Regions from separate parts of the Homo sapiens genome. Here region 1 is linked to region 2. The links come from fine-mapping of genetic effects on gene expression. A gene starts in region 2. The other region holds a variant in brackets. All regions are shown on one strand. Distances are between the middles of the regions. Region 1 overlaps TMEM272 (transmembrane protein 272). Region 2 holds the start of CCDC70 (coiled-coil domain containing 70).

Region 1 (2,919 bases), 23 kb after region 2:
GCCTCTCCTTTCCAGGTTTCTTCCCCTTTATTGCTCTGGGGTGAAGTGGAGAGATTGTGGGCTTTGAAGGCACAAAGTCCAGGTTTCAGATAGAGTCTCGGAGGCCTCATTTCAAACCCCAGTTCTACCACTTACTAGCTGGGTGACTTTGAGCAAACAAATTGATCTGAATCTTGGTTTTCTCTGTAAAATGGGGCATACGAACTGAGGAGACTAAATTAGGTAACATGTGGAAGACCTTGGCAGGGCGCTGGTGATATGCCTCTGGTTGGGGACTGACTATCTCTGGTCACACTGCTTCCTGCCATAAAGGTCCTGTTGACATAAAGCCAAGTTTTGAGCATGACATGTCCTAGAAGGACAGTGATGGGAAATAAGAACCCCGAGTCTCAGCCCAACCACCGTGCTTGTGTGCTAGCAGTGGATCAGCTGCAGAGAGAAGCTGCGGGCTGCATGGCTCCTGCCTGCAGGCCCATGCTGACGCTGGCGGTGGAGTGACTTGCCTGCTATGAGCCACAGCTCTGGTCAAAGCAAGCTCTCCTTCTGTCATCATGACCATCTCTGTCCTCAGACCACAAATCTTCCCCATCACGGCCTGTTCCCCCTGCCCTAAGCCCTAGTTCACCCAGGAGGGCCTGCAGGTAGTGCTGCTAAAATGCTGTGGTCCCTTGGTTTGCAAACCCCTGCAGTATGAGGAACAAGGACCTTGTTAAATCGTGCTTTTAAATGGAGCCGCGGCTACTCTGGACAGGTTCCTGGGGAGACTTTTGTATGAAGTAAGGATGCCTGCCCCAGATCCCGCCTGGATCAGCCAGCCCCCATGGAGGCCTTACTCCCAAGCAATGACGTGGTGGGAAGTGGTGGAACTACGCACACCCAGCCTCAGGAACAAAGTGACTCCCTTCCTCTCCTAGTGTCTTTACGGGGCTACCTCATTTCACCGGGCAGGAAAATTTGCCGTCTTGATGAGCTGGAGTTTTTTTGTGGATTTAAAATGTATATGGCTGTTTCTTCCAAGGAAGGGAAGCCCTTTCTCACAGTGTCAACCAACTTGCTCAGACCACAGCAGGTCCACAGGGGAGCCGGGGTGGTGCTCCAGGCCGCTCGGGTCTCCACCCAGGCTGCTCTGGTCAAGTCCATGGTTCCTCTTCCGCTTGGACCCTGGGGAGTGCAGCAGCTGCGTCAGGAAGTGAGGGCGCCCTTGCTCTGTACCTGGAGCCATACCTGGATCAAGTTTGGG[T/C]TCTGCCAGTTGCCAGCTCTGGCCTTAGGGTGAATCTTAAGCTCTCAGGGTCTCTAAGGCGCCATCTGTAAAACAGAGTCAGTAACACTTCCCAGATAGGATTGTTGTGGGATTAAATATGAGATGACCTATTTAAAGAGTTAACACAACGCCTGGCTGCAGCCATTGCTCAGCAAGTGAGAGCTGTTACCATCTCCCCCTCCAGGCCTGTGTCTTCCTGGCTGGTATCACTGGGCAAGCCTCTTAACCTCTCTGAGCTTGGTTCTCTCATTTGTGGAATAGGGGGTCTTTTTCTCAGCCCCGCTAACCACTAACAAGGCCACACCTGACACTGGCACCCAGGCCACCCGGGCTGACTGAGACCACCCTGCAGGCCACCACTGACATGCACAGAGAGGGTTGGTTATTGGTGCTGAGTAAATCCTTCCACCATCCTTTCTAATGAATTATTTTTGATCCTCAGAACTTTGTCAGCGAGCAAGAACAATGCCAGGAGGTCTGGAGAAAACGTGTCATCAGTGCATTTCTAAAATCGCCAGCAATGGTGAGTCACAACTCTGAGAAATGCCCTGGTTTTGTAGGATTGAGACCTCTGGGATCACCCGATGAGCTAAAGCTGGAGTGGATCATATGAGTGGGCTGTGCTTGGTATGGGGTGGCCCCAGGGTGGTAGAGCTGGGGAAGACAGTGTCCGGCCCTCGGTTGGCTGCTTTCTCCTTCCATTCCTTACCAATTCATCTTTAGTTTTCCATAGTTCACTGTATGTGTTTTCCATGTAATATGTGTTTGAAAAATATGCATGTGAACGGAGTCACTGCTACAATCAGTGTATGATGGCAGCCGTGCTGGGCAACACGGCAGGGCAATGTGACACCTTGGACCTGGGTAGCTTTCCCTTACTCCTACCTCAACCTGTCTCCTTACTAAATTGGATATTCCCCCACTATCACCTGCTGGGGTCCTTTCTGTCCAGAGGGGCTGGACCATATTACAGAAGACCCAGTCTGTCTTGTGTTTGGAATATCCCAAAATCAGATCCCAGGCCTTGGGGGTCCCTGGGATGAAAGCTTTTACATCATGGTGAGATGTATGGTCTAACTTTTACAGATGAAATGTGGATAAAGGGAACATTGTGGGAAGCCTTAAGCAACTCATCTCCAGGCACTAATATCAGGAAGCTGCAGTCAGTGGGTAGTGGCGGACTAAGGTGGAGGGTCAGCAGAACAAGGGGCTGACAGATGGGTGCCTGGGCACCTTTCCTTACCTGTACTTACCATGTCCTAGCACACACTGTCCACCTCCCACTTCTCCTCCCATGACGTTTCCTGCACTGCTGCATGCCAGCACCTCCAGCAGTGCCTGACACACAGTAGGAGCTCAATAAATAGGCACTGGCTGACTAAGCAGGTAAATGAGTGAAGAGCCACCTCCCAGATACAACTGACCTTCTCCATTCGCTGATGGGCCCAGTGCCCATCTCATTCTCCTAACGCACAGCCCTGACATTTTACTCCCAGGGACAGCTCTAAGGGCCACCCTCCTTTCATCCCTGGAGCACACCTACTGCTGTGAGGGCCAGAGTGGGACAGTGGTGCTGGAGTCTCTGCCCAGGGCCTCTGATGCTCTGGCAGGATGAAAACTCATAGGTTTACTGCCGGCAGGGAAAGGAGACACCATCA
Region 2 (2,919 bases):
ACACAAACCAGAACCAGGGGCACATCCTTGACCTTTCCCTCTCCCTCACCAGACTTCTCTCCTCAACCATCAAGCCCTCCTAGCCGAGATCCAGATCCTTAACATTTCCTGAAACCATGCCCCTGTTCCATCTCCCCCATGACAGCCAGGTCAGGCCAGGATGCCTGTAACAGTCTCGCTGCTCTCTGTATTGATCTTACCCTCTCATCTGCCCCTGCACTGTAGCCCTACAGGTGTTTTCTAGAACACTCTCTCGTCCTATCACATCAGTTCACACACCTTCAAAGACCCTGTAGCCCAAAGATCAAAGCTGAACGCCCTAGGAAGGCCTTGTGCAGCCCAACTCCAGCTTGCTTCTCCCTCTCCTTCCTACCCAGCCTGCACCCAACTCCAAATCTAAGGCCCAGTATTAACGGGCTCTATTCAGCTCTTGGCACTCTGCCTGCAGTTTCCTGCCTGTGTGGTGAAGCACATGTCGCATCCTCTACTGAGAGCCCCTTTTGTTCCTGTGGTGGGCTTGAATTCCTGTACATCCTTTCCCCTCTGAAAGCTACTCGGACCCTCCAGACAAAGTTCCTCGCCACCTCTGCGATACTGTCTGTCTGTTACTCCACTATTACTTGTCACACTTGATTGAAATTAGGTGTGGACATGTCTTCCTGACATCTCTGTAACCCAGCAGCTATCATAATATAACGCCGCCTATATAGGAGGGAATTGGTGAAAATGTTGGTTGAATTGAACTGAATTGAACTGCATTTTGGAAATTTGATTTTCTATGTTGTATGGCTCTTTGCCTAGAATCCCTCCAATATGTGAAGTCCTCCCTCACTTCCATGTCATGCTGGCCCCCTCTCCCTGGATATCCTTGCCCAACCTCACTTCAGTTCACCTAGCGAATCCTTCAGCACTCAGATACCTCCTCCAGGCCATCTCTCCTAAGCTCAGACTGAGCATGTGCCCTTCCTGTCCCACTAGAAACACCTCATCTTCCATCTCTATGTCTGGCATCCAGCGAAATGTTCTGCCACAGGATAGGTGTTCAGGAAATAGTAGCTGGATGAATGGGCGTCTACTGGGTTAGGATGTTGGAAAACATTCACCTCCAAGTTTTTCTCAAGTGAACACTAAACTTTCTTTAAGAAAGAAAGAAAATAAGAACCATATCAAATAGGTAGATGTGTATTAAAATATAAAGTACAATATAAAACTGTAGATGTGTATCTGTATAGCTGTAAAAACATGCACTAAAGATACATGCCCAGTTTTCAGTTATACTGTAAGACTAGGAGCTTCTTTTTAAGGAAAATATTATATATTACCTTATGCTTAGAACAAATACTATACAGTCTAAAGCCAACAGTTACTTACTGCTTAGCTGCTTCCCACTGGGGTAAGTCCTGTAGCCCTCAGAGGGGGCAGGCGGCCATTGTCATGTCAGATCCCCAGTGATGCGTGCTTGCAGGCTTGCCCCAACAATGCTGGCAGTGACCTGTCTGTGCCCTTTCAGTCCTGACTCACAGGATGGAGATGGCCAAGAAGGGGACCCCTATAAAAGACTTTAAGGAAAGGAGGGGGCACTTGAAAGGTTTGAAAGAGTTCCTCTTCAATCTTTGACTTCACTGATAGGGCAGTGCTGTTGATGACTCACAAGTGATTGTTACCTTAGATTCTGTCAGCATTGGTTCCGGGAGCATGGTTCTAGGAAGTCATGTTCTGGTGGGGGCTTTGTGTGGGATGAATCACTTCTCTTGCTGCTTTCCAGATTCTTCGTCTTTGGCTTTTGATAGTTTGACTATGATGTGTCTTGGTCTTGAGGTTTATTCTACTTGGAGATTGTTGAGCTTCTTGGATATGCAGATTTGATGCCGTTTTTCATCAAATTTCAGAAGTTTTTGGCCATTATTTCTTCAAATATTCTTTCATCCATTTTCTCTGTCTCCTCTCCTTCTAGGGCTCATATTATGTGAATACTAGTAGCGTGAGTGTGTCCCCCAGGTCTCTAAAGTTACGTTCATTTTTCTTCATTCTTTTTTCTTTCTGTTGCTTAGATTAGATAATCTCAATTAACCTGTTTACAAGTTCATGGATTTTTTTCTTCTGTCAGTTCAAATATGCTGTTGAATCCCTCTTTAATTTTTCATTTTCAACTCCAGAATTTTTGTCATGTAGTAAAATTTTTAAATAGTCAAGTAAATTAACATATCCATCATCTCATATAGTTACCCTTTTTTGTGCACTGTAGCAAGAGCACCCACAATCTACTCTCTTAGCAAAAATCTTTAATACAGTGTTATTAACTACAGTCCTCATGTTGTACCTTAGATCTCTAAATTATTTATCCTATATATCTGCAACTTTGTACCCTTTGATTTCCCTCTTCCCGTCCACTCCCCACACGTAGCAGCTGCCATTTTATTCTTTGTCTGTGTATTTGACTTTTTTCTTACTTCTTCTTTTTAATTTTTTTAATATTCTACATATAAGTGAAGTTGTGCAGCATTTTTCTTTCTGTGTCTGGCTTATTTCACTTAGCATAATATTCTCCAGTTTCATCTATCTTGTGACAAACGGCAGGATTCTCTGTTTATGACTGAATAATATTCCACTTTATATACATGCTGCAATTTCTTTATCCATTCATCTGTCAGTGGACCCCTAGTCCATCCAGAATTTCTCCAGAAATTTTCACTGTGTCTCCAGAATTTGTTTGGTTATATATAGAAAAGGATATATGTGCTTTTCTATATACATATATATACACACACACACACACACACACTTCTATATATATATTTTTTCTATATATCTATATAAAAGTATATGTATACAAAGTGTGTGTGTGTGTATATATATATATACACACACACATATATATATGTATGCACACATACTTTTCTGTCTCTTTTTGGTAAGGCA

The links.
Region 1: its variant is fine-mapped to the expression of CCDC70 in whole blood (TOPMed, PIP above 0.99).

What each region holds. Positions count from the first base shown.
Region 1 is chr13:51,837,338-51,840,256 of GRCh38, reverse strand. TMEM272 (transmembrane protein 272) reads left to right here. Exons shown (of 5, transcript NM_001351003.2): 2 at 1,704-1,784. The coding sequence starts at 1,727. Among named protein-coding and RNA genes, the nearest start is that of TMEM272, 6.4 kb to the left of the region's middle. The variant T/C (reference allele first, on the strand shown) is at 1,241.
Region 2 is chr13:51,860,682-51,863,600 of GRCh38, reverse strand. It overlaps CCDC70 (coiled-coil domain containing 70), which reads right to left and starts at 1,632. Exons shown (of 2, transcript NM_031290.4): 1 at 1,372-1,632. It also overlaps a transcript of TMEM272 not described here. RefSeq lists an enhancer at 831-2,030.